Homo sapiens: one gene and its partners. The protein of the gene in region 2 interacts with the protein of the main gene of each other region in a biochemical or structural test. Each region holds a gene or a part of one and is shown on either strand. Other genes may lie near its edges. The genes, in order: MEF2B, HDAC9, MAML1 and SIN3B.

Evidence for each region.
Region 1: the proteins of HDAC9 (region 2) and MEF2B are reported together in a solved structure, tested with the Homo sapiens proteins (one study listed by BioGRID).
Region 3: the proteins of HDAC9 (region 2) and MAML1 form a complex in vitro, tested with the Homo sapiens proteins (one study listed by BioGRID).
Region 4: the proteins of HDAC9 (region 2) and SIN3B form a complex in vitro, tested with the Homo sapiens proteins (one study listed by BioGRID).

Annotation. Positions count from the first base shown.
Region 1 is NC_000019.10:19,167,252-19,174,844, forward strand, and holds the start of MEF2B (myocyte-specific enhancer factor 2B), read right to left. Parts: upstream 3,013-7,593; 5' UTR 2,954-3,012; intron 1-2,953. UniProt on the Homo sapiens protein: Transcriptional activator which binds specifically to the MEF2 element, 5'-YTA[AT](4)TAR-3', found in numerous muscle-specific genes. Activates transcription via this element. May be involved in muscle-specific and/or growth factor-related transcription.
Region 2 is NC_000007.14:18,491,105-18,498,766, forward strand, and holds the start of HDAC9 (histone deacetylase 9), read left to right. Parts: upstream 1-4,644; 5' UTR 4,645-4,919; intron 4,920-5,157; coding exon of another isoform or gene 5,158-5,198; coding exon 5,199-5,220; intron 5,221-7,662. UniProt on the Homo sapiens protein: Responsible for the deacetylation of lysine residues on the N-terminal part of the core histones (H2A, H2B, H3 and H4).
Region 3 is NC_000005.10:179,770,802-179,777,785, reverse strand, and holds the end of MAML1 (mastermind-like protein 1), read right to left. Parts: intron 6,640-6,984; coding exon 6,543-6,639; intron 3,892-6,542; coding exon 2,909-3,891; 3' UTR 503-2,908; downstream 1-502. UniProt on the Homo sapiens protein: Acts as a transcriptional coactivator for NOTCH proteins. Has been shown to amplify NOTCH-induced transcription of HES1. Enhances phosphorylation and proteolytic turnover of the NOTCH intracellular domain in the nucleus through interaction with CDK8.
Region 4 is NC_000019.10:16,874,380-16,880,853, reverse strand, and holds the end of SIN3B (paired amphipathic helix protein Sin3b), read right to left. Parts: intron 4,800-6,474; coding exon 4,626-4,799; intron 4,369-4,625; coding exon 4,276-4,368; intron 3,310-4,275; coding exon 3,215-3,309; intron 2,672-3,214; coding exon 2,464-2,671; intron 2,358-2,463; coding exon 2,127-2,357; 3' UTR 505-2,126; downstream 1-504.

The DNA of each region.
Region 1 (7,593 bases), on a different chromosome or scaffold from region 2:
AAGGCAGAAGAATCGCTTGAACCTGGGAGGTGGAGGTTGCAGTGAGCCGAGATTGTGCCACTGCACTCCAGCCTGGGCAACAGAGTGAGACTCTGTCTCAAAAAAAAAAAAAAAAAAAAAATTAGCTGGGTGTGCTGGTGTGAGCGCGTATTCCTAGCTCCTCAGGAGGCTGAGGCAGGAGGATCACTTGAGCCCAGGAGGCAGAGGTTGCAGTGAGCTGAGATCACACCACTTTACTCTAGCCTGGGCAACAGAGCAAGATGCTGTCTCAAAAACAAAGAAAGAAAGAAAGAAAGAAAGAAACCTCTTCCAGAAGGCCAAACACCCAACATGTCTACACTCACTGCACCCAAGTTGGGGTGAGCAAATGTTTTAAATTCCCCTTCTCTTCTTAATTTGCATTTTCCAGATGTCCACCTGGTTGGGTCATAGTTTAACCAAATAAATCATTCGTTGGGATGGGAAAGCCAAGAGTGGGTTCAGCTTGCTCCGCTCACAGGAGCTGCCACAAAGTTCAGAGAGGGGCAGCCACCTGTTGGGGGGTCACACAGAGAGGAGGGAGAGGAAGCTGGGCCTCGTGACCCCAGCCTCTGTTCTCTTGGGGGACTGAGGCATGGCCTTGAGCTCCATCCTTTTTTGAGGGGCCTAGTGTTACTACCTGGCCTCAGCCTTCCCTCCTGCAAACCAGCTTCCTGCTCTCTAAGATGACATCCCAAGATCCTAACTGTCCTGAAATTCTGTTTGCTGGAGGCCAAGCTTCCCCCTTTACTGAACAACAGGAAGGGGACATGAGGGAACAAGCCTGCCTTTTTAGAAAGCCCTTTTCATCTCTGGAAATCAGTCCTCACACACTGGTTCTCCGAAGTCGAAATACTTTTTTGTATCCAGTTTCCTTCACTCCAAGAGTCTGAGAGTTCTTGTCCCGAATGCCCAAGGTCCAGGGGCCCTGCCCTTCCCCAGGGATGATTCTTGGCCAGGCTAGCCTGAGGCCTTGATTATTGTTTTGTTTCTTTCTTCTTTTTTTTTTTTTTTTTTTTTTGAGATGGAGTTTCACTCTTGTTGCCCAGGCTGGAGTGCAATGACACGATCTTCGCTCACCACAACCTCCGCCTCCTGGGTTCAAGCGATTCTCCTGCCTCAGCCTCCTGAGTCGCTGGGATTACAAGCATGTACCATCATGGCCGGCTAATTTTGTATTTTTAGTAGAGATGGGGTTTCTCCATGTTGGTCAGGCTGGTCTCGAACTCCTGACCTCAGGTGATCCGCCCGCCTCAGCCTCCCAAAGTGCTTGGATTACAGGTGTGAGCCACCGCGCCTGGCCATTTTTTTGTTTCTTTTCTTTCTTTTTGTTTTTCTTTTAGAGACAGGATCTTGCTCTGTCACCCAGGCTGCAGTGCAGTAGCTCAGTCATAGCTCACTGCAGACTCGAACTCCTCGGATCAAGTGATCCTCCTGCCTCAGCCTCCCGAGTAGCTGGGACTATACACATAAGCCACCACACCTGCCTAATTAAAAAAACAATTTTTTTTGGCCAGATGCGGTGGCTTACTCTTGTAATCCTAGCACTTTGGGAGGCTGAGGCAGGCAGATCACATGAGACCAGCCTGGCAAACATGGTGAAACAACGTCTCTACAAAAAATGCAAAAATTAGCTGGTCATGGTGGCACACGCTTGTAGTCCCAGATACTCGGGAGGCTGAGGCAGAAAATCAATCACTTGAACCTGGGAGGCAGAGGTTGCAGTGAGCCAAGATTGAGCCACTGCGCTCCAGCCTGGGTGACAGAGTGAGACTCTGTCTCAAAAAAAATTTTTTTTTAAAGCCAGGTGCAGGGGCTCACGCCTGTAATCCCAGCACTTTGGGAGGTTGAGGCAGGTGAATCATTTGAGGTCTGGAGTTCAAGACCAGCCTGGCCAACATGGTGAAAGCCCATCTCTACTAAAAATACAAAAACTAGCCAGGCGGTAGTGGCACGCGCCTGTAATCCCAGCTACTTAGAAGGCTGAGGGAGGAGAATTGTTTGAGCCTGGGAGCTGGAGGTTGCAGTGAACAAAGATCACCACTGTACTCCAGCCTGGGCGACAGGATGAGACCCTGTCTCAAAAAAAAAACAAAGAAAGAAAAGAAAAGAAAAAGAAAATGGGGGTCTCACTATGTTGCCCAGGCTGGTCTCAAACTACTGGGCTCAAGTGATCCTCCTGCCTCAGCCTCCAAAGTGCTGGGATTACAGGCATGAGCCACAGTGCCCGGCCAGCTATTTCTGACTAATTGGGTCTGCAACTAGGGGTTAGGGTGGCCAAGGACACAGGTCACCCATATCTGCAGCCCTGGACCCCAAAAGAGATAGGGAGGGAGGACTGTGACCGTGAAAGTAATGCTGCCACCACCTTGTCATGTGCTAACAACCACACGGGGATGTGACTCTTGTTCCTGTACCCATTGAGGCAAAGGGAGGAGAGTTGGCCCCGGCAGCTGTTGCTCCCCCGTTCCAAGGTTTTGTGCCTACCATCCTGCTGTGACAAACGAGTGTACACCCACAGCAAGAAGGCATAGGGTTGTGCACAGGGGATGCGCTAATGCTAAAGGAGTGCACACCAGGAGAGAGGGACATCACATGCCACATCACAGAGCTCACAGACACATAATAGGGCCTCACAGCACCATGATTTTGGACACACAGCTAACTCTCCAACTCCCCAACTCACACCAAATCTCAGACGCAGAGCCCTTGGACACACAACTTCCAGACCCACACCCTTCAGACACACACCCCTTGGAGACACAACCCCCTCCTGCCACAACCTCGGGGACTCACCACCCCACGACACACACCCCTTTAGACACACACCCCACCCTGGGACGCCCAGCAGTACACCCGGACCTCCAAAACCCACCCAGCCCGCAGAAGCCGTTCAGAGGACACCACAGGAGTCTCAACCCGATATGACACGCACCTGCTCGGCCTGGGCCCTGGGACGCTGGGCGCACGGACCCGCGGCGGCTGCACGAAGATCAGGGGCCCGCGGCCGCAGGTGCCTTGGGAGCGGGCGGTCCTGCCCCCGGGAGCTGATTGGGCGGGACGGGCTTATTTGCATACAGGGCGTCACCCTGGAGGCGGCGATGGGCGTGCACTTGGGCGTGGCCCCGACCCGGGAGTTCATGGGCCTGGGACTCAGACGCGAAAGGATGCTGGGGCGCCATGGGTGGGGGCGCGGATAAGGAAGAAGCAGAACGGAGGGAGGGGGCTGGATCAGACTGGCCAGGCTTTCCCCGCCCTCACTGGGCGCCCTTGACCTTACTGCCGACCCCTGACCCTACTGTGACCCTAACCCTAATTCTAAACCTTTTCCTAACTCGGCCCAACTTGCCTGGATTGATTCCATCCTGAGTGAAATAGACTCCGATCCCGGACCCCGTCGCCCCGAGGAACCAAGCCCTTCTCGCAGGCAACGCTGACCCTCGCGCTCGCTAGAATGGAAAGACTGCAAGACGGGGCTCTCGGGTGGCCTGTGTGGCCTCACTCAACTGTGCCTCCTGGGGCCAGATATGTGCTCCCACAGGGAGTGACAGACCCTCCGCAGCTACTGGTCCCTCAAGCCCGCACCGCCTGCCCCTCCACAGTCCAAGACAACCACACTGCTTCCACCAACCACTTCCCTCTCCTTACCTCTCCCCGCTAAAGGCTGTTTTCTAAACTTCAAAGGTCAGCTGTGAGGGGCCTTCCAGGATTGGACCCCAGCCCAGAACTCTAAATCCACCCCTTCCCCTGGGATCCCAGCACAGGCCAGACCCACAGGAAGATCAGAGCAGGGGTTGGTGAATGTATCAATGTGAAAAGAATTACAGGATAAAGATGGCTCTGGGATGGGCACTTCTGGAGAAGCCCCCGGCCCGTCTGGGGCAGGCAGGGGATCCATGCACTCCCCTAACCCTGTGGGGTCAGGCTTGGGCCAGAGGAGGGATGGGAGGCTGGGACAGGCCAGAATTGGGGCAAGGGCTGTGCCAGAGGAGTCAGGGAGGGTTTCTCAGAAGAGAGGGCATTTGTGCTGGGCTTTCAAGTATGTGTAGGAGTTTGCCACTAGGAGAAAGGTTTTTCTTGTTTTTTTCTTCAAGGCAGGATCTCACTGTGTTGCCCAGGCTGGAGTGCAGTGGCATGATCATAGCTCACTGCAGCCTCGACCTCCTAGGCTCAAGCAATCCTCCCAACTTAGCCTCCCCAGCAGCTGGGACTACAGGCAGGCCACCACCAGGTCCAGCTAATTTTGTTTTTTTTAAGAGAGGATGTCTCACTATGTTGCCCAGGCTGGTCCCAAACTCCTGGGCTTAAGAGATCCTTCCTCCTCGGCCTCCCAAGGTGCTGAGATTACAGGTGTGAGCCACTACACAAGACCCGAGAAGGGCTTTTTCAAGAGGGAAAAGCACTTGCAAAAGTGCAGAGGAAGAGCATAGAACATTCTCTGGCCGGGGAAGATGAGGAAGGTGAAGCCAGTATAGCGGGCAGGGGGTGAAGAGGAGGGGCAGATACAGGTGGAGAGCAATGGGGCTGCAAAGCTGCCTGGTGTCCATCTCCTCCAGAGAAGAGAGGGGCTGGTCCCCCAAACTCAGGGGGAGGCATGTGGCAGATGCTGGAGTGTGGGGGACACTGAGACAGGGAACAGGGGGCCTGGGAGGCTTGTGTCTCTCCCCACACCTCAGTTTACCCGTCTGTGACATGGGCAGTGTGGGCCTCTAGTCTGAGCACAACTTTCTCTTTGGACATGAAAACTATAGAGTTCATACTGTGTCATCAGTGGGTCCCTCCTGTCCCCATCCAGTGCCCAGTGCCATACACTGGGGTGCCCCAAGGACATGCCAGGGCCTGGGCCAGGCTGGGGGCTTCTGCCTCCACTCCATGGTGCAGAACAAGGCTTGGGGAGTGTGGAGGTGGCTGGGGAGCCCTGGGCCCCCGGAGGGCTGCTCTGTTTACCGGAGGCCACCCGCCCACCTCTGATGCAACAGGCAGGCTCTGGTTACGTGAGGCCGGCAGCTGGGCCAGCTCTGGGGGAAGGGCTAGCCCAGCAGAGCGAAGCTGGCTGGGGCTGGCCCTTATGCACCCCAACTCCCCAGCCCCCTCCTTCTGGTGGGCACCATCTTGTTATTCATGGTCTGTCCCGTGTCCTTTTGCCTCTGTTCCTATCCTATACCTTCCCCAACCACTAATTGTGTCCCCTAGCAGGGCCACCAAGAGTCTTAACCTCATTCTTCTCAGATGAAGGGACACCCTTAGTTGCTAGAGTAAGAGGTTGGAAGGTAGAAGGGAAGGTTGTGAGGAGGAAGGGATAGAAGGGTCCAGAGTGGGTGGTGAGGGAGAAGAGTGACCTGGGAAGCAGGTCTGGGAGATGGGGGAGGTGGTGGGTGGGGGATGGAGGAGAAGGCTAGGGTGGGAGGCTGGGGGAGGTGGAGAAGCTGCCCCCGCTGTCTCCCTCCTCCAGATTCTCTCCCCTCTCCCAGGAGAAGGCTTTGAAGGACCTTCCATGATAAGGATGTGTGACCCAGTAGGTAGGGAGGGCCCTGAGGTTAAAGAACCCTGAGTCCCCATCCCAGCTGTGCCGCCCACTCACTGTGTGACCTCAGGATGGTCACTGCACCCCTTGGGGCCTCTTTGCTCATATGAGAAGTGTGGATAGGCTGGGCGCGGTGGCTCACGCCTGTAATCCCAGCACTTTGGGAGGCCGAGGTGGGTGGATCCCGAGGTCAGGAGATCGAGACCATCCTCACTAACACGGTGAAACCCCGTCTCTACTGAAAATACAAAAAATTAGCCAGGCGTGGTGGCAGGCGCCTGTAGTCCCAGCTACTCGGGAGGCTGAGGCAGGAGAATGGCGTGAACCTGGGAGGCGGAGCTTGCAGTGAGCCAAGATCGTGCCACTGCACTCCAACCTGGGCGACAGAGCGAGACTCTGTCTCGAAAAAAAAAAGAAAAAAAAAAAAGCCAGGCATGGTGGCACACACCTGTAATCCCAGCTACTCAGGAGGCTGAGGCAGGAGAATTGCTTGAACCCGGGAGGTGGAGGTTGCAGTGAGCCAAGATCACGCCACTGTACTCCAGCCTGGGTGACAAGAGCAAGACTCTGTCTCAAAAAAGAAAAAAAAAAAAAAAAAAAGAAGAAGTGGGGATAATAGGAGCCCTTAAGGCCCACCTCCAATGTTCCCTCCTCCAAAAGCCTTCCTATCCTCTTACCACTTAGGATCCTTCCACCTCCCCACCCTTCCTTCCAGCTTAGCACTGATCCAGGGGGCGGGGTAGAGTATGTGGCTGGTTCTGTGTCCCCCAGCCTGGGGGTTCCTTGGGCCCGGGCCCAGTGCATGGTGGCACCAAAGGGGTGTCTCCACGGGTTTCTTTCTTTTCATTTTTTAGAGACAGAGTTGCTCTGTTGCCCAGGCTGGAGTGCAGTGGTACAATCATGGCTCACTGCAGCCTTGAACTCCTGGGCTCAAGTGATCCTCTCGCTTCCATCTACCAAGTAGCTGGGACTATAGGAATGCACTACCACACCTGGCTAATTTTTAAATTTTTTTTTGAGGTGCACTGGGTGTCTCGCTTGTTGCCCAGGCTGGTCTCGAACTCCTGGGCTTAAGCGATCCTCCTGCCTTGGCCTCCAAAAGAGCTAGGATTATGGATATGAGCCATTGCGCACAGCCTCCATGGGTTTCTTGAAGAACTGGAGAATCTCAAAGAAGGTCTAAGCAGTGAAAGGGAGTGGGGGATAAGCCTGGGGCACCCAGAAGCCTTGTTCAGGGATACTGTAGGGAAAAGAAAAAAAAAAAAAAAGGCTTTCCAGGGGCCTGAGTGTGCAGGACTCTCCGGGAACCCAGAGGAGTAGGTCTGAAATAAAAACCAGGACTCACACCAATGGCTAAGGACAAAAACCCAGCGGAAGTCTGATTCTTGTCCTGACCACTGTGGACGGAGCAGGGGGCAGGTCGCTGCCCTGTATGGGTCTCCTTTTACCCCATCTGCAGATCAGGGTTGGGATCCTTTCTGGGTGATCTCCAGCCTCGTGAGCACTATGCTTCTGTTTGGATGCCCCATGGCACGGAGAGCTCACTGTCTCTCTTCTAGCTGCCTATCTCTGGAGTTCTGCCGGGAGTTAAATTTTTTTTTTTTTTTTTTTTGAGACGGAGTCTGGCTCTGTCGCCAGGCTGGAGTGCAGTGGCGCAATCTCGGCTCACTGCAATCTCCACCTCCCGGGTTCAAGTCATTCTGCTGCCTCAGCCTCCCGAGTAGCTAGGATTACAGGTGCTCACCACAGCCAGCTAATTTTTGTATTTTTAGTAGAGATGGGGTTTCACCATGTTGGCCACGACGGTCTCAATCTCCTGACCTCGTAATCCACCCGCCTCGGGCTCCCAAAGTGCTGGGATTACAGGCGTGACCCACCATGCCCAGCTGGGTGTTTTTTGAAATGGAGTCTACCTCTGTCGCCCACGCTGGAGTGCAGTGGCGTGATCTCGGCTCACTGCAACCTCCACCTCCCGGGCTCAAGCGATTCTCCTGCCTCAGCCTCCAGAGTAGCTGGGGATTACAGGCATGCACCACACCCAGCTAATTTTT
Region 2 (7,662 bases):
ATTTTAGAAGAAAGCCTATTATAATCCAGAAAAATACAACTTGAACTCCATAATCTCAAGTGTTGAAATCCCAAAAGATGAAAATATAATTCTGAAAGAAATAATAAAACATTCTTTATATTTATTTACATTTTAAAAGGGGGTTTATTTGAGAAAAATTAAAACAAAACAATACACTGTACACGATAAAATAAATAATGGCACATATTTTTACAAGCAAAAACACTCAGGTATACTAGCAACAGTCACACCAGTATAACAGTTATGATGCAGACAAACCGTATTTATAAAGAAATAGGTCAAAAATGGAAATGTATAAATGCATATCACTGTGGTTGATAATTGTGTGCACCCAGCTTTATATAACTGTAGTCATCTTAAATTTCCGGATGAAGAAGCTAAGCTTTTTGGCAAGATGGATCAAAAAATTCAGTGGGTCAACAACACGCATATAGTTACCCAAAGAACCGAGATCCTGATAAATTTTCTTTCACAAGCGCAGATGTACAAAATCTTTCTTTCATTTATTGAAGAAATTTCGACATGTTTGGGTTCAGAAGTACTGCTTATATGCAAAGTCAACGTTGTGATAATGCAGTTCTCGTGGAATCAAATTTCTGATGTCCAAGGCATTCGAAGAGAAGCCTGCCCTAGTTCTCAGACAGAAACCAGTTCACCTCCTGTGTCTGTTCTATATGGGTCCCCGGCAGATCGGATGGTGCCTGCTAACATTGAGGGGAGATCTTCTTCACCTAATCCACTCAAACTCACACTAATGTCATCTGGAAGCACCCTCACAGACACACCCAAAAAATGCTTTAATAGGTTTCTAAGTATTTAATCCAGTGACATCTCAAATTGAATCCACAGGTCCACCCCTTGTCAACTTGGCTCCCGTAAGTCTCTCCTTAACCATACTTAATTTCCAAGTAAAGACTGTAACAGCCGCCTAACATGATGCAACTAACATGATGCAATAATCCTGCATACGACCAAAAACTAATCGCTTCACCAGAATGCAGCTTTCAAGATTTCATATTTGAGATTTTAATATTTCGAGATTGTTATTTTCAGGATTGTAGACGTGAGAGATTTTAGACCTAAGGGATTTAGACCTTAGGGATTTTGTATCTTTTCAGATTTCAACATTCAGGATTATGGCATGTGGGATTGTGTCTTTCAGGATTGTGATCTAAATCCATTTTAGAAAAGGTCATTGTGAGCTAGAGGTCTGAGGATATTTCTGGAAATATTTTGGTGCCATACAGGTTTTTTAATACTTTTTTTTTGCTTATATGTCTGCATAGAAAGAAATTGGATTATGGTAACTTTGAAATAACATTTTACATTAGGATTTAATTCCCACTTTCATTTACTATTAAATTGAGAACCTGAGATTTTTTTGGCCCTTGTTACTTTTTTTACCTTTTTCTTTGACCTATGTGTATATAACATATAATATTTGGATTAGTTTGCAATAAATGCTTACTTAATTGAATTTGAATTTGTTACATTGAAACTTTTTAAACTACCCATCTACCTAGCCTGACATTTGTATTAGCTTGTTATAGTTCTTGTAATAGAACATATATCTTTTTCCCCCACATTAGTAAACTGTAGTTTTATAAATACCCCAAAAGAAACTGAGTCACATTTCTTTACTAACATTACTGAGATGATGTGGGAAGAATTAACTCAACATTCTTAATAATGGAAATATGGTAATCAATATAGTTGATGGTTGTTTTGATGATACTTATTTTTCTTCTGAGAAACAAGTGGGGTTTTTTGTAAGTATCCAATGTCTTTTCACTCTAAAATATTTTTTCATTATCAAGAGTTAAATAAAAGAGAAGATGGCTGATGGAAAAACATACTGCAAGAATGCAGGGATGAAACGTAAATAAACCTCATGTTAAATAATGGTCAAAATGAAGAAGACACATTATTTACAGTATTTTATGTGGAATGCCCTTTCCTGGATCCTTTAAGAACTAGGATAATTACTAACTCAGTCTTCTGGAGTTTTATTCTATTTTTTATTTTTTATTATAAAAGCTGAGAGATCTTTTTTTATCAATTGTTGTTTGAAGGTGTAATTTAAACTTAAAAAGACAAAAGATGCATAGGCATATTGTATCAATATGGTGATTTTGTTATCTCTTTTGTATATTCATCATAAATTTTTGTATTCTGTTAAAAATCACTCTGAAACAGACAGTGGGTCCATTTTTCATCAGTAGATCATATTAAATTTTATTTGGAATATCTCAGATAATGATTTGTATCATTTTGGTAAGGGACAAGATGGTGAGACTGGATAATATAAATGCTAGACCTATATGGTTAGTTATTAATTACCTGTATTTCCTTAAGCTACTGTCTTTAAAGCCTGACTCCAATAGTGAGTCCTTTTGTAATCAAGCCTCCTTCGTTTCCTCATGAGTGAATTTCAATGATTGTTTTTCTTAATATAAGAAGTTCTTGTTCTGATCTCACCACAAAAAAAATGGTAACTAGCTGAGATGATAGATTTGTAGCTTGATTATGGTAATTATTTCACAAGGTATAGGTGTATCAAATCATCAAATTGTACACCTGAAATATAAAGAATCTTGATTTGTCAAATATACCGCAATTTAAAAAATGTTCTTTACATAAATGTTTTGTAGAATAAAAAAAAAAAAAGTTCTTCAAAAGAAATCTCAAATCTCCAAATGGAAACAGGTAAAAGTGGAGCTCCCCTGGTTCCACGGAGAACCTTTTTTGAGGAAACTTAGGCAACTCGCAGGTACCTTATGTCATGAGACAGAGTTTGAAAACTACAATTGACTATCTCTAAATTTCCTCCCAGGTCTAAAATGTGATGATAGTTACTACTTCAGTACATCATCCTTAAGGAAAATTATTAGGTCCACACTGTTTCTATCCTTTGAATTTTACACATAAATTTTGTAATCAAAAGTTTATTTGTAATATCAGATGGAATCAGATAATTGCTTTTTGTTTTTTCCACTGACAGGAACATAAGATTTTGTTGTGTAGCTTAAGTCAAACGCAGTTTGGAATATATATTTTTTAAAAATTGTAACTTACATATCCAAATACAATTTTTCAAGAAGTAGAGTATTCAGTAGAAATTAATCTGTGAAAGAAGAGGAATTCAGCAGTGGCCTATTTGATGAATGATTTAACGTGCTTATTTCTTCCCTTTCATCAAAACTCTGTGTCCCCTTGTTTGCCCCCTCTGACTTCATACTCTGGAGTTGACCAAGATCCCTCTTCCATCGGATTGTTCTGGGAATTTTGAAATAATCTGCTTTTTCCTCTCTTTCCCCTGTTGCTTCTGATGCCTTAGAATTACATTTTCCTCGCTGATTTAGTTTAGAAAAGAGAAAAGAGCTTCCATGACTAGTAGATTATCACTTTTGGGTTTGCTCTTGGAAGTGACAAGATGCTAGGATCCCTCTTTGGAATGTAAAATTTATCTCTTATATAGAAAGGATATAAATGTAGCACCAGAGACTATAAAACTCTGATACTATCTACTGTACTGTATAGCTGAACGCCACAATGTGTCTGGTAATCTATTGACTATCATAAATGCTATTTCTACAGAAAAGTTAGGAGGTCCATATTTCGGGCAACCAATGTATAGCTGAATGCAGAACAGTCATAGTTGGGTACTAACCATATATATGATTTATCCATCAACAGGTGCATATGCTCAGAAATTCTGTATCCATAAGAAATCAGACTACTTTCTTTTCCTTTTGCAAGTAAATTGAATTTAGCCTGAGAGGCTGAGGGGAAATTTTCACATATAAGCCACGGTTTTGTGTTTTGTGTTTTGTTTTGTTTATAGATATAGTACTAACTGGATGGATGCGATAAAATTCATAGGTGGTACTAAGATACAATAGGATTTGTGAAATGGACAATTGTCTTGCATAAATAGCAAGTAAAAAATCAAGCCTGTCCTTCATAAAAATTTTATTCTGGGGTGTGCTTGTTTTCCAAAAGTACCTCTGCTAAATCTCCTGTTAGTCCTGAAACTAGAAGGCAGAAAAGCTTCTAGTGCTACAGCCAACTGCAGTGTAGCCTGAGAAACAGGCAACAAAAATAGAACACCAGGATTGCTGTGCGTGGGTGAGGCAGAAACCACATTATGAGCAAAAGCTTCCAGTATTATTTTAGAACCAATACAGAGCTCTGTACTTCTCTCCTCTCTCTTCCAAAAACACATACTACAAAAATAAAATGAAATGAAATGTATGTGCATTTGCCCTCTTAGAATTATGATTCTTAATTTTTTTTCTTGCCTTCCTTTCTTTGGAAGCGAATCGCCAGTATGGAAACACAGTGTGTAAAGCAAGCTTCGAGAGAGGAAAGAGTTAATTGGTTTTAAGGCCCTGCGATAGAGAATTATGGTTGGAAAGATAGAGGCTGGACAGCTGGGTTTGCTGGGGTATTTTTAAATGCATTAATGCAGGCTCCAATCACTCGGCCATGCTTGACCTATTTTTGGCTCAGGCCGACCATTGTTCTATTTCTGTGCCTGTGGGCCATGCTGTTGTTGATTCATATGCAAATGGATTATCACTCGCTTTAGCCAACTTGAGCTGAGAGAGACTGAGAAAGGGGGAAGAGAGGCACAGACACAGATAGGAGAAGGGCACCGGCTGGAGCCACTTGCAGGACTGAGGGTTTTTGCAACAAAACCCTAGCAGCCTGAAGAACTCTAAGCCAGGTTTAATTGGTTTCTTTTTCTCGTGGGTAGACTTAATAATTTTCTACGTATTCTGACAAAGAAATAACCCCGAAGCACGTTCCTATTTCCCACCTGCTTGTAGTTTCCGGGATAACCTAAACTCCAGAGAGCTATAGCATCCACTCTGTCCTTTCTGCTTTGCACACAGGTTGGTAACATGGGAAAAGTGTCCAGGTCTTTTTAAAAGTGGATGCCCATTTGAGCAGAAAGGAAATCATTGTCGAAGTTGATCCTCTGCTGCTTCTCCTCAGGGAGGAGGGAGAACCAGCGAGGGTAGCTCCTGGGGCCGGTGCACTGAGCAGTGATGAATGTTTCATGTAGCTGAAGTAAGAGTGACTGGAATATGCTGCAGACAATTTACGAGAGTGACTCCTGTTTTTCCTCAGATGGGGTGGCTGGACGAGAGCAGCTCTTGGCTCAGCAAAGAATGCACAGTATGATCAGCTCAGGTAAGATCCTCTTTCATAACTGAGACGTTTTAGGTTTGAAAGGGGGCTGGCTTGGGAAATGCAGCTAAGAAAAGCACCTCTCTTAAGGAAATTGCTGCTTTTTCGTGTTGATGTTGCTATTTTCTTGGTGCGTCTGTAGGGTTTAACTTAGATCCCTTCCATTACTGTTTCTGTGCATATTCAGTCTGCTTAGGGACAGCAGCTTCTGAATGAAATTGCAAACTATTGCTTCTGATGAAAGATGAGACTGAGATAAGTAAAATGTAGTTGGGGGTGTTTTGCCTTTACTATGCAACTAGAAAAAGGAGCTGTGTACTGATTGTAAGCCTATTCTAATAGGACTTTAAAAATCAGGTAAGTTCATATTGGGGCTTCAGTTTAAACTGCAGCCCCGCTAGCCTGACGATTTTATATTTACTCTGTGCCTACAGAAGCACATCTATTTATAGACCTACCTTCTAAAATGTGTTTGCCACAGAGTTATAAAGGTAGTTTTCTTTTTTCCATTATGTGGCTTTTTCTCATCAGCCCCAAATGAAACTGTTTAGGATGAAATAAAATTGTTATTAGCAGATGCTTATTTTAATTTTCTTCAAAAACATGTGGGAAGTCTAGCATTGTCAGGCAGATGTGATGGCATAACACACATGTAAATGTGTTAAAAGCAGGTGCAGCGTTTTAAAGGATAATAGGAACAGATTCTAATTTCTAGTTTCTCAAGGAGATGAGCTGGTGGGAGATTGAGCTTGTCAGCCTTGTCAATTTATACTTACTAAATGAACATACTCTCCAGGCAGTATCACTTAACGTGTAATTATTGCCTTTCATATTTATTTCCTATGGCTATTTCCTAAAGCTTTGGGAACTCTTTGTTTCTGTCCTCTTCTGAATGTTTCAACCTAAAATTGGCTTAAAGTTCTCACTTAGATCCCACTTCCCATGTGGGCTTAATCGTAATTATAGATCACCGCCTAGATTTCCATGATAAGAATGCCACATAAAGCAGTGTTTACTTTGTAGAGCTAGGTGTGAAAGAAATATTCCACAGGTTGGCATGATGTCTGTTTTGGTGTTAATACACCTTCCCATATGGGGATCTATGTTTAAAGCTAGTTTTCTTTAAACCTTGGTTAGTTATGTTAATTTTAAGATCCTTCTGTTGACCCAATCTTTTCATGGAATCAGAATAAAATATCAATTTTGCATAATTTGGTATTTATACACTTAAGTGACAGGAATTATGTTAATGAATAGTGCCTGCTTAACAAAAGCAAACCTACCAGAATTTCAGTACAGTTTATTCTTATAGCTGCAAAGCTGACAAGGGCTCCGGGAGGGTTTAACAGGTATGTCTCTAATGGGACTGGTCATTTAACTTAGCATTTTATTTTTTAAAATATGGATGAACCCTTTGAAAATAACTATTTTAGAAATCTTTTCAGCACTATGCTTTATCCTTTTAGTCCTCACTTCTGTGTTACAAGTTTGATATTTTTTTTCATATGGTAGAAACATACATGCCTTCCAAGTAGCAAGTGTCTGCTGAAGCTAAGGCTGGCTACAGGTGTTTGCAAGCTTTGCTTTTTTCTCCACATCTTTGATAATCACATACAGCTTTACACCCATTTCAGTAGAGATTGTCATTTTCCTAGCATTTAATGGTTTGTGTACAAAGCAACAAGATTTTCAGACAGGGAAGTGCTTCAGGCTGTCCATGCTTTGGCCAGTTCTACAAGAAGCAACATTTAAGCAGCAGCTAGCTATTAAATGAAAAGTGATGTAGGTTAACATCAACTCCCAAAACCTGTCTGGTATAAATACATAATCACTAAGTTCTATTTATTTTTAAAATGTGAAGCATAAAAACAATTACACCCTTCCTGCCATGCCATATATTTCATATATGTTCTTAAATTTAATTCACCTAGTCTTTATTGTATACTTCCTGTGAGGCACTGGCTCTCAAAGTTGGACTCACCAGAAGCACTTTACAAAATATGATACCTAGATTCCACTCCCAGAATGCCTGGTTTAATTGGTATGGGGAACAGCCTGGGGATTGAGGTTTTTAAAATCTCCCCACCTTAACCTTCAGCAAACTGAGATTCACTGCTGTAGGGCTAGGGAACAGATGGTGATGCTGGTGAACCACTATCAGTAGGGTTTGTCCTTTGAGCTAACTGCTAAATTAGGGGTATGTTTGTCTTAATTTAGCTACAAATCTTGTTCAGCTCCCTTTTGGACCAGTGGTCTGGACGTGATTCATAGGCTTAGAAGCAGAGTCTTTGGATTTGAAAGAGAGAAAGGATGCCTGGCAGCAGTGCAAAGGAGTGGAGAGAGCACTGTTCTAGGAGTCAGACACTCTGTATTCTAGCATGAGCTCCACTGCTAGCCGATTGTGTACTGATTTTTTTACTCATCTTCAAACTGAAGAATAATGAT
Region 3 (6,984 bases), on a different chromosome or scaffold from region 2:
AGCTCTATGCTGAAAAGCAACTAAATAGTACATGGAGCAGACAGACTTCAGGGGCAAACCTAAGGGTTCTACATGAAGCACGAGAAGCACAGTCGTCCGGCCCAGCTCCCTCCATCAGCCGCATGGATGCCCGTGAGTCCCGGAGACAGGCTGCTTTCTCAGGGTGATGCTAGAGCTAAGAGAGCACAGTCGTCCGGTCCAGCTCCCCTCCATCAGCTGCATGGACGCCCGTGAGTCCTGGGGCCAGCCTGCTTTCTCAGGGTGATGCTAGCTCTAATTTAGTATCTATCAGCAGATAACAGAAGCTCCTCTGAGGCTTCAACCAAACCAGCTCCCACCCAACAATGTGCAATAAGAAAGCAGCTAAATCTATGACTCGACAAGCATTTCTTTAAAAAGAAAAAATTAAAAAACCAAGAAAAGCAAGCAGCTAAATTACAAAAGAAAACCAATCCCCAAACTTCTGCCAGCAGACCCCAGGTGACGTCAAATACAAAGGTTGTTTCCATACTAGCAAAATACTTTATTTTTATAATGATAAAACAAGGAAAGTAAAGATTTCTTTTTGGTGTATACCAGAGTTAAGGGCAGTAGAAGAATATGGGGATTAATAGGACTTTTATGAACTTTTGATGACAATAAAAAGTTAACAATACCAACCGTTTGCCATAAAACTTATCATAGCTCCCCCAAAACACACATATAAAGGATCATAGTTTTAAAATCTATAAAAGTAAAAAATATACAGTTGGAAGCTCTAGCGCTTATTCCATCTTTCATATAAAATTGTAAACATTTATTTACACAAAGCAAATGTGTATAACAAAAGTCTGAGCACCCTTTTCTTCTGAGTTGTGGCTCCTGGAAGACGGGGCTGTGCACAGAAGCAAAGTCATCTCCTCCCCTGACTCCCGAAAACCAGGTTCATAAATAAAGCCATGGGCAGCTCCCTGGGGGGACCCCAAGAATCACATTTTATTGCTATGACACTGCAGCAAGTGAGGAGCCCCCACTGTGTCGCCGGCCCCAGGACTAAGGCGGAGTGCAGGGCCAGCGAGCCCCGGGGACAGGGGTGGGAGACGGGGCAGCAGCCAGATGGGGTCAGGAGAGGAACAAGGATCCACAACCAGCCTTCAGCCGATTTTTGGGAGAAAAGCCGCTGAGGTCACCCTCTTCCCCTTCAGATTGGGGAACTCCCTCAGAGGGTGAAATTTTCACTGGCTTTATGATTCACCCCTTCTTTGAGAGCTAAACTGAGTACATGGGAAAGGTAGGGAAGGTGTTTTAAGGAGAAATGGCCGACATACCACTTGGGGTGGCAAATGGCTATTAGAAAAGAAGATCTGAGGGTCCAAGTACCCCCAGTGAGAAAGGCACTGCTGGTGCAAAATAACTACCAATGTGTGTACAACCTCTCGTCCCCTCACCGCGACTCAGGCTGGTTGCATGAGTATTTTCCTTGGCTCAATTCTCACATAGGACACTCCTGAATGATCCATTGGGAGACTCCAGGGAAACAGAAGTGGGGCTGCAGTTTCTCCACAGAACACTCTGCATCTGAGCCACTTTTCAGCATTCTCTTTTCTCTCCACCATTCTGTGTAAAAGGGTCTCACCCTGTGCTTACCACTTTGCTTTCGTTACGGGGAAGTGCTCTCTCCATCTTCGTTTTCCAAAAACAGCTCACATGTCATATTCTATTTCGTGGACCCTCAGCTTAGTCAAGTCCACTTGAATCTTTAGAAAGGATGTCTTAGTGTTATAAAGCAATCTCTTTAAGAAGTGCAAGTCATCTGACATGGGAGTGGCAGAAGTTGTCAAACCAAGTGGAATTGCTTCCTCCGGGCCGGCCTACGGCCTCCTTCCCCAAAACCTTTATGCTAAGGTTCCCTTAGGAATTCTAAGACTCTTCCTTTCCCTCCAATGGAGTAAATAATTGTTTTCCATTTGGGCTGCAGAGAGGAAGGAGAGGCAGACAGAAAGGCCAACGGTAAAGGAAAGACATCTGTGCACAACTGCACAGTGACCACGCTCCCACCATGGGCAACATACATGTTCAGAGAAAACTGCAGAAGGTGGGGAGACATAATACTCCAGGATACAGGACCCCCACATCTCTACCTTCCATATGTAGCCTGGGGTCCTGCTGCCAGGACATGGGAGGAAGGGATTCCTGGGGGCCTTGGGAGGGAGGAGGAGGAGCTGCTAGGAAGACCCTAGCTGTGTCACCAGACCTGCTATCCCATGCCTCCTGTCCCTTTTTGGCATACGCAGTCAACAGCCTGCACTTAGGGAAATAATTTTCCAGTGGCCTCCTTCTCCCCTGAAAGCTGACAAAGAGCAGAAACAAAAAAGGCTCTTAATCAAAAGGAAACCCTAGGTTTCCAATGCCACTTAATTGATTTAAACCATCACCTACCCTAATCTGTTTAAAAACCTTTTGTAAAAAAATTTAAAAATCTTTTCTATGCTACAAATTGCAAATAATTCTGCTATCTAAAGTTTCAACAGAAACTTGTCCCCAGCACTGGGGTAAGTGGAGCAGTCTTGGATAAAATCACCATGATGGCACAGATTTTTATAAGCCCGACAGTGTGGGGTTTCACTGGTGTTACTGTTGGTTTTTTGGTCGTTTGGATAGAAAACCACCTTTAGAACCCTATCCTGCTGTCCCAACACCAGGTACTGATGCCAGCAGATGGGCTGGGGCCAGCCCGATGGACCTCAACTGCTGGCCTGAGGGGCGCAGCCACAGACCCTGCCCAGGGCCAGGCCTCACCTGGAGCTTGGGCTCTACCTGCCCAGCTCCCCAGGCCATGGGCTTTTGGTCCAAAGTAGTTGCTCTTTCTTTGAATCTGAGAATAAAAATATAGGATGAATGAACACTAAAAACACTACAAATCCTTCCATTACTGAGACCCTAACAGGTCGTCCAAATCACTCATCCACTCCTCTGAAGTCCTGTTCTTCAGCAGGGAGTCGATCAGATCGGTGTGTCCAGCCACACTAGAGAGCCCACTGCCACCTGGCTGCCCGCTATAGGCAAAAGGCAGCTCCTGGCCCGCGGTCCGCACAGGGTAGGCCTGGGTGCAGTGCAGCCCCGCCCGACCGCCCATCTGTGAGGCAGGGCTCTGGCTGAAGGCCCCCAGCTCAGGCCCTGCTGGGCTCAGGCCAGGCAAGCCCTGCTGAGGGGCTGTTGGGGGTGGTGCTGGGGCAGGGGCGCTGGTCCTCTGCTGTGCACTCACTGGGGGTAGCAAGGACCCCACGGCAGCTGCTGAGCTCATGGGAGCCATGGGCCTGTTGGGCACTGCCTGGGAGAATTGCGGGCTAGACATTTTCAGGTGGGCCTGCTGCTGCATGTGGAAACTGGAGGCTGCAGTGAAGGGACTCACGTTGCTGTTCCCTGGGGTCTGGCCACTGAGGTTCGGCATTCCCTGATGCTGCCAGGAGGAATTCTGGCCTCCCATGGCTGGTGACACCCTTGGGACCGGTGGCTTTGTTAAACCAGGGTTCAGGGTCCCCTTATTGTGCTGCTGGGAGAGGCCAGAGCTTCCCAGAGAGTTCTGCCCATAGGCAGCTGAGACGGAGGTGTTCTGGCCCACGTTGGTCTGCCGTGGAATGTGGGCATGTCCATTGGTGGCCTGTGGCGGGGGCTGGGCAACTATCTGGGTTATGCCAGAAGCCATGCCATAGAGGCTGCTCTGAGGCATGTTTTGGGAGCCAGGGAACTGAGCCACACCCCGGTCCTGTTGGCCTGAGTTTGTGGGGAGAGAGGAAACTGAAGCATGTCCAGGGCCCATTGGCATCAGATTCCCAGCCTGAGGGAACACTCGAGGACAGCTGGAGTTGGATGGACCCAAGGTGTTCATGCCGGGCACGGCAGCAGAGGACCCTACAAGACAGAGAAGAGTCTGGCAGTCAGGAGTCGACCACCACTGGGTCCCTCTGAGACTCGAGCCGCAGCACCAGAAGTCTCACGTTCACGGCACACTGGGAAGAGGGCCCCGGGGGCCATGGGGCAGAAAGCCTTCCACAGGTGGAATGGAGGCCTGGTCTCTGAAACAATGATGGGGTTCAGAAAGGCACAGAGGAAGGGCAAAGCCCCAGGGGAGAGAAAACCAGTGACCTACTTCATCTAACTTTCAAGCACCCACCAAATTTCTGCTCTGTGGGGACCCTGTGGTGGGCACCGGGGACTCTGAGGTGGACCCAACGCAAGATCCGCCTCTGGGAGGCAAAGTTAGCACATGGCACGATGGGGCGCAATGGGGCGCGATGGGGCGCGCCTGGCCAGCAGGCTGCAGGGTGCAGGCTGGAAGCCCTGGCATCTGGGAAGCCTTGGGCAAGGCTTGAGAGAGACAGTGATGAATCCACTAGGTTTAAAAGCACAGAAGTTTAGCAATTTAACAGTTTGGGGAAAAAGAGCATTCCAGGCAAGTGTGTGCAAAGGCAGAGTCAGAAAAAGGCATCTGTGTGGGGAACTTTCAGAGACTGGCCGTGGCCGGGATATGCAGACAGTGGCCAGCTGGTTAGAGATAAAATGGAAGAGCTAGTTCCGGCCAGATAGGGAAGAGCTGTGGATGGCGTGTGAAGAACGGGGTTGTGGCCGGGCGCGGTGGTTCACGCCTGTAATCCCAGCACTTTGGGAGACCGAGGCGGGCGAATCACGAGGTCAGGAGATCAAGACCATCCTGGCCAACATAGTGAAACCCTGTCTCTACTAAAAATACAAAAATTAGCCAGGCGTGGCGGCGCGCGCCCCCAGCTACTCGGGAGGCTGAGGCAGGAGAATTGCTTGAATCCGGGAGGCGGAGGCTGCAGTGAGCCGAGATCATGCCACTGCACTCCAGCCTAGGCGAAAGAGCAAGACTCTGTCTCAAACAAACAAACAAAGAACAGGGTTGTAAAGCCCAAGAGTGGCTGGACTGAGAGTGTGGCTGAGACCATGCTGGGGAGAGGCTGTTCAGTCACGGAGATGAGGGAGGGCAGACCATGTGGGAATGGGGGGTGGAGGTGCAGAACTGTGTGACAACATCTCACCAGACAATATACCATCTTATGGCACACCATTTATACTATGAAATGACAAGGTGGCCAAAGGAGGGAGGAGTCGCAGGAAATTACCAGATCTTCACTGAGTACCCACTCTGTGGCAGGTGCTGTGCTGGAGAGACAGCAGAGGGTGGAAGAGAAAGCACCCCTATGCTCAGGGAACTGCTGTCTAGGCCTCCTGGCTTAAGCAATGGACATATGACAACACCATTAACTGAATTAGGTTTTGTGGGTAGGAGAGTCATTGTTCAGGGATTGGCCGTAACTCAGTGCTTTGTTCTTCTTCCTCTCTACTAGCAACCATATAATAAAAATTGGGGCCGGGCACGGTAGCTCACACCTGTAATCCTAGCACTTTGGGAGGCCAAGGCGGGCAGATCACGAGGTCAGGTATGTGAGATCAGCCTGGCTAACATGGTGAAAGCCCATCTCTACTAAAAATACAAAAATGAGCCGGGCGTGGTGGCAGGCGCCTGTAATCCCAGCTGCTTGGGAGGCTGAGGCAGGAGAATCGCTTGAACCTAGGAGGTGGAGGTTGTAGTGAGCCAAGATCGTGCCACTGCACTGCAGCCTGGGCGACAGACCAAGACTCTGTTTCAAAACAACAACAATGAAATTGGGTTGAGGAAAAGAGGAGAGCTGAAACCGGCTATTTCATTCCCATCAATAATCCACAAAATGTCAGATGGGTCTGAAGGCAGAAAACATGGGTCAGACCCATGCTTCTGAAATGCCTGCAGATTTCAACCCCACGTTGACCCCAGGTAGCACATACATAAAACCGTACCTGGTCTCCTCCAGGACACACAGCTGTGGTCAGTCTCTCTGGGACCCTTTATAGCAAGGTCCCAAATAAGGAAAAACAGAGGTTTCTAAGACATTCTGAGAGGAGCTAGGAAGGCGGGCAGACCAGAGCTTCCTGTATCCATTCCCTGAAATCTTTGTGCATTTCTGGAGGGATGGCCTATGAAGTTCCCTGGCACATCTCAGAGGCGACAGCTAGACTCAAGTGTGCTTCCTGCCCTTTTCTGGCCAACTGTCCACTAGTGATGCTGCCATCTGTGATATTCAAGTGAGCAGACAGGAGGAGAGAAAGAAGCCAAAGGCCACGCAAGTGCATTAAGTCCTTATCTGGAAGATAGGAGTCATTTTTTGAAGACACATAAAAGCAGAAGCAAAGAACTTTCTTGAGAATTACAGAAGCTATTTCCTGCTGATAAGATGTCCTCCAACTAGAAATGATTTTGCTTCAGAAAACTGTACAGCCAGGGACCCAGCAAAGGTAGTTCTAGTGGTTTGCCTCTGTGCCCTCTTCTCCTGATGCCGTGGAGTAACTAGAAAACCAGGCCCCTTAGGCAAACTGAGGTGTATATGATGACAATGCATGCAGCCTGATGAAGTCAAGGCATAGAGCTGGGCAGACAGCAGGGATTCAACCAGCACCAGGCAGCGGCCTCCCCTGTCCCTGCTCGTCACACAGACACCCCCTACCTGTGAACTGTCCAACCTGCTGTGGGAAGCTGCCTTGTGTCGGGTCTTGGTACTGGGGTGGTGGGCGGGTCAGATGGCGCTGAAACTGTTGCTTCTCCTAGAAAATGCCAAGAACAACAAAACAAAACCAACATATAACAAAATCCAAAACAAAGGGAGTGAGGGAGGTCAGAGAAAAGTAACTTATCCAAGTTTGTTACTCACAAATGGGCTCCTGTGGAAATAGTGCTGATTTCATTTTGGGGTTTTTAAATAGTATGAAACAGATCTAGGGAGCAATGACTTTTTTAAAAGGTAGGTATACCTGTTTTTAAAAAATGGAGAGCTGGTTAGGAAAATGCAAATCACAGCTACAATGAGATCCCACTAGGATGGCCAGAATCAAAGTCAGATGATAACAAGTGGTTGGTGAGGATGTAGAGAAATCAGCACCCTCATACAC
Region 4 (6,474 bases), on a different chromosome or scaffold from region 2:
AGCTGGGGCTTCTGCTACCCGGAAGCAGGTGTGGAGCTTGGGATGCAGACAGGGGGCAGGAGATGAGGAGAAAATGATGGTGAAAGCCAGGAAGTGGGTGGGGCCCCAAGGAGTACAGAGGGTGGTCGTGTGGGGTGGGTGGGCAGGCATGGGCCTGGACGGATAGGTTGGGCATGGGAAGCTTAGAACAAACACCTTAGAGCAAACACCATGATCTTTAAATTGGGTTCTGCATGAGAGACACTCGGGCGAAGGAGACGCTTCTAATTCCCACTAAATGTGCAAATGGAATGGGGAAAGAATATTCTAGAAGACACTCCCATGTCGTGGCGGGGCAGGTGCAGGGTGTGAGATGATCTTGGTTCAAGGAGGGGCTTCGACTCCCCTGGTCCCAGGTAGGCACACCCAGCCACCCCTTGCTCTCATGGGTCCAGCCCACTGACCTGGTGGCAGGAAGTCAGCAAGGCTCTCACAGGAAGACCAACACACCCTCACGGCTTGATGTCAATATTCAATTATTAACTTTAATGTGCAAATAAATAGAAAAGGAAAACTACATTCAAAACAGCTGCAAAGGAAGGACAAGCCCCAGAACAGAAATTCCTCAAGAACGGAAAAGAGGCGCTCCCTAGAAGCATGCGGGGATGGGAATACTGGGAGGAGGGGCTCGGCGGGGTCTCCGGCTGCACCCGGGGCCCAGGTGGCTCTGCCCGAGACGGCCGTGGGCCTGGTACAGGAATCTTGATGGCAAGTTCCCTTCTTAGAAAACCAGGATGTGTACAAAGTGCCTGTGTGACACTTGGGGAGCGGGGGTGGGGAGCCCAGGAGGACGGGTCAGCATCGGAATCGCCCAGCCTGGAGTCAAAGGCATCAGGAGCCTCCAGGTTCCACAGGAAACTTCTAGAAACACATCTCCACTTCCTGGAAACTTGAGTCCAGCTGTTGCAGGATGGCAAGGGTGGCGGTTATTCTGGGCCTACTGGTGTGCAGGGGCCAGGGCCAGGGGCTCTCATGGTCGGGGAGAGAGGCCTGGAGAAGTGGTCCCCAGCCCCAGTCACTTGGGATTCTTGGCACAGAAAGCCTTGGATGCCTCCATGGGACAGTCGCCTCAGCCCCTCACAAAAGGACAACAATGATCCCTGGAGTGGCCGCGTGGGTCCCAGGGTGGGTGGGCGGATGGGGCTCCTTGGGTGGCGGCTGGGACTGTCAGGGCGGCTCTCGGAGTTCCACAAAGGGAGATCTCAGCCCCAGGGAGCCGCAGGACTTGGCTGCTACAGAAATAACAACCACTAAAAGCGAAAGGAATAAATATCTGTGCGTGTATACACATACGCCTAGGGTGCCCACTGCAGGAACACGACTGGGCCCGCCGCCCCACAGCAGGGTCGTGCCGGCTCTGAGGGAATACTGGCTGGGGTCCCTCCCCTTGTGGGCCCAGAGTCCAGCTGCTGGAGTTGGGGTTGGGTGTCTTATCCAGAGCGGGGTCTCCCAGGGCACTGCCCGCCTGCTCCAGCTCTGGACTTCAAAATGGGATCCCAAAGGTTTGGCTGAAGGGTTCTTCTCACTTCCAAAGTGACTGAGGGCCTGAACACCAGCCAGGCAGAGCTGATGCCCAAACCCTCAGATGATGTTTCTGGCAGCTCTGAGAATATTCTGGAAGGACTCACTTTTCAAGCAAGCCTACCCAGGGCTCAACTCCTTCCTTGTCAGGGTCTCTTGGACATGGACCCCCTCCAAAGTGTGGGCCTCAGGAGGGCTGTCACCTGTGACTTTTCCAAGACACGGCAAGAATATGGGGCAGGAGCCATCTGCCTGCCAGGGATTTGGCACATGTGACGGACGGGGACGCAAACATGATTGCTTGTTCCTCGGCCAGCACGTCCACCCGCCCCTGTGGTGGGGCTGAGCCCCAGGGCTCGGGTGCAGGTAGCTCAGGTTTGGCACACAGCAGGCCCACAGGAGACCGGGAGCCACGGGGGCGGCGTCCTGCCCTGGAGTGCGCTGTCCGGCAGCAGAGGGGCTGGGAGATGCCTCTCACGTCGTTCAAGAAAACGGCCCCGACACGACCAAGGCCGAGGGCACGTCTGTGCTCTGTGAGGCGCCTGCCCGGTGCCCATGAGGGCGGGTCAGGGCGAGGCCGGGCGGCGGCTGTACTGCACGCGGTAGCGGGTCACGGGCAGGCCGTGCACGTGCACTGTCTCACACAGCGTCTTGCAGGGTACCATGTCCTCGTCCTCCTCACCCATCAGCCAGTCCTGCACCAGGCTAGCCGCCTCCACCGTCACATTGTCCTCCAGCCAGCGGCTGTGCCACTCCTCAAAGTGCTGGTGGTGGCGGAGCAGGACCAGGGGCTGCACCTGTTGAAGAGGCCGGGTGTCAGGGCAGCTGAGGGCTGGACCCCCAGGGCCCCAGGACTTGGGGTGAGGAGGGGCATGTCGGGGCAGCCCAGGCCTCCCCTGGCACCTGCTTGGCCCGGCAGAGGGTCCCGCGACGGTACATGTAGTCCTCGGAGTTCACGATGAACACCATCTTGTGAGTGCTGAGCTTGAAGCGGCAGTCCACGTCGCAGGCGCTCTCCACGCCCACCAGCCGCTTCCAGGAGCTCCTGGCCTCACCGCGCAGGGCCCGCGCCTGCTCGCTCTGCCACCGGCGGCGGAACTTCTTGAGGTTCCTGGGGGCGAAAGGAGGTGGAATGGACTCTGGCTCTCGGCATTGTGGGAGGAGGATTTGCAGGCTGGGAAACCCCCAGGCCTGGGACCATCAGAAGATGTGCTACCTCCCAGGGGTCCACAGAAAGCAAATGGAAGCAACAAGAAATGCCCCCAGATCTGAACACCCACCAGCAGCCCCCACTGGTCCCATAGGTGCCATCCTAGCCCGACCTGAGGTGGTCCAGGGTCCTGCCACAGCCACCCGCCTCTGGCCTGGCCCCACCAGCTCTGGCAGCGTCTCCCTCCAGTCCGGGCATTCACTCTTCACCCACTGACGCATCGTGGGGTTGGCCTTGCCCCTCCTACACCTCACCGTCCTGGGGTTACTAATCCCTCCACTGCAAACCACAAGCCTCAAAAGGGCAGGGCCTGCCTCAGCACACAGCAGGCACCTACTAAGTGCTCCCAGACAGTGTGCCATGGTCCAGCCCCCGTCAGGACAAAGGGGACACTCCCTGGGCCCAGGAAGGAAGGAACAGAGCATGCATCTCAGGGCCTCTTACCTCTGCAGGAACACAGGTTTCAGGAGGAAGCCCTCAGTGGGCGAGCTGGACGCGCCCTCGGTCCCCACATACTGCTCCACGTACCGAGCCAGGTGCTGGGGACAGGGAGAGACACAGCCCGTGATGCCCCTACAGCAGGGCTATGGCCACTCTTACTCTGGACTCTGAGTTCAGGAGCTCACAGGGGTTCTGTGCCCCCCACTGCCAGAGCATGAGGAGAGCCGCTGCAGAGGACTCTGATCCCTGACGGAGACCCCAACAGACTATAGCTCTTGACAGAGGACCCAGTGACAGCGGGACTCACACAACCAGGCCACAGCTGAGGAGCGCCAGAAGCCCCCGGAAGCTGGAAGAGCAGGAAGGATCCGCCCCAGAGCCTTTGGCAGGAGCACCGCCCGGCCCACACTGTGGTTGTGGACTGCTGACCTCCAGGACGTTGAGGGAATAGACTTCTGTTGTTTGAAGCCACGTGGTTTGTGGTCATTGTGGTGGTAGCCCCAGGAAATGAATGGGGTTGGCCTAGCTGAGTAATGTGCACACACACTGGACCTGTTGGCAGGTGCCGGGAGCTGCAGGCCCCAATGACCACCCTGGGGACACACACGGGTCAATGCCTCACTGTCACCAGGATGCGGGAGGTGAGCAGGAAACATCTGTCCCCGCAAAAATTGTGACTGGGAGCTGGGCCCAGGTGGCTCCTCTGCTGGGGATTAGGAACAGGATGCAGCCCTGACACAAGAGGTGCAGAGGTCACAGCCACGGGATGCCCTGAGTGGGAGTCGGGGGCCAGGGAGAGGTGGCTTGGTTCCCCTCCTGCCCTGGGACACAACCGCTTGCTCAGGAGGAGTGGTCTGCTCTTTGGAGAGGGGGCACAGAAGAGAGCCTGGTGGGGGAGCAGGGAGGGAGGCAACCCCACCCACCAGGCCTCAAGGAGAGCCTGTGGCCTGCAGAGGGAGGGTCTCTGGATGCTGCGCGGCCTGCGCTTGGCTGGTGGGAGCCCCATGCTGCTGCCCTCAGGCGCTCCCTGGTATGCGTGGCACAGACTGGGGCCAGGGCCTCACCTGGACCTCCACAGGGTCCTCCGTCTGGGCCTCCTCGGTGTCCAGGAGCTCGATGGTCATGATCACCTGCCCTTTGCGCTGCAGGAACATCACCTGCGGAGCAGGAACGCTGACAGCCTCCACTGCCGGCACAGCCCAGCCGGCACAGCGCAGGCTCGCAAGGCCACCCGCCTCCCGCCTTTGCCACCCTCCCAAAGCCCTGATGCTTCCTGCAGGTCAAAGGTACCTCATGGGCTCTGCAGCAGGGCCGGTGTCCCAGCCGCTGAACCAGGGTCCACCCAGGACTGAGTCCAGAGCGGAGTGAGCGGCCGGGCCTCCCGGCGTGTTCCCAGCCCCAGGCCTCCTCTCACCTTGAAGCAGTTCTCGTCGGCCATGCAGCGCTCAGCCTTCCACTGGTAGCTGGTCTCCCTAGCAGCGCGGACGCAGCGGGAGGACAGGTTCCCACCAGCGGCACCCCGCTTCTTCTCGTTCAGGTAGAGCTCCACCACCTTCAGGCAGACGTCATCGCTCACGAGGTGGTGCAGCTGGCGGGAGGAAAGCAGGTGGTGCGGCCACCCCGCCTCCTGCGGGAGTCCCCACCTCACCCACAGAGGAAGTCGACAAAGGCCAGAAACACATCAGGATGGAGAGTGCATGACACAGGGATGAAGAGACCAGAATCCTGACAGGCTGTGGGCAGACCAGACCAAACAGACCAGACCAGACCAGACCAGACCAGACCAAACAGACCAGACCAGACCAGACCAAACCAAACAGACCAGACCAGACCAAACAGACCAGACCAGACCAGACCAGACCAGACCAAACAGACCAGACCAAACAGACCAGACCAGACCAAACCGACCAGACCAGACCAAACCAGACCAGACCAGACCGAACCGACCAGACCAGACCAGACCAGACCAGACCAAACAGACCAGACCAGACCAGACCAAACAGACCAGACCAGACCAGACCCAAACCAGACCAAAACCAGACCAGACCAAACCAAAACCAAACCAGACCAGACCAGACCAGACCAGACCAAACAGACCAGACCAAACAGACCAGACCAGACCAAACAGACCAGACCAGACCAAACCAGACCAGACCCAAACCAGACCAAAACCAGACCAGACCAGACCCAAACCAGACCAAAACCAGACCAGACCAAACAGACCAGACCAGACCAAACCAGACCAGACCAAACAGACCAGACCAGACCAAACCAGACCAGACCAAACAGACCAGACCAGACCAAACCAGACCAGACCCAAACCAGACCAGACCCAAACCAGACCAAAACCAGACCAGACCAGACCCAAACCAGACCAAAACCAGACCAGACCAGACCAAACAGACCAGACCAGACCAGACCAAACCAGACCAGACAGACCAGACCAGACCAGACCAGACCAAACAGACCAGACCAGACCAGACCCAAACCAGACCAAAACCAGACCAGACCAAACCAAAACCAAACCAGACCAGACCAGATCAGACCAAACTAAACCAGACCAGACCAAACCAAAACCAAACCAAACCAGACCAAAACCAGACCAGACCAGACCAAACCAGACCAAACCAAAACCTAACCAAACCAAACCAAACCAGACCAAATCAAATCAGACCAGACCAAAACCAGACCAGATCAGATCAGACCAAACCAAAACCAACCAAACTAGACCAGATTAGACCAGACCAAAACCAGACCAGACCAGACTAGACCAGACTAAAACCAAACCAAACCAGACCAAATCAAATCAGACCAGACCAAAACCAGACCAGATCAGATCAGACCAAACCACACCAAACCAGACCAAACCAAAACCAACCAAACTAGACCAGATTAGACCATACCAAAACCAGACCAGACCAGACTAAAACCAAACCAAACCAGACCAAACAGACCAGATCAGACCAAACCAAAACCAAACCAAACCAGGCCAGATCAGATCAGACCAGACCAGACCAAAACCAGACCAGACCAGACCAAACCAAAACCACACCAAACCAGACCAGACCAAATCAGACCAAATCAAAACCAAACCAAACCAGACCAGACCAGACCAGATCAGAGCAGACCAAATCAGACCAAATCAAAACCAAACCACACCAGACCAGATGAGACCAGACCAAAACCAGACCAGACCAAATCAGACCAAACCAAAACCAAACCAAATCAGACCAAAGCCAGACCAGACCAGACCAAACCAGACC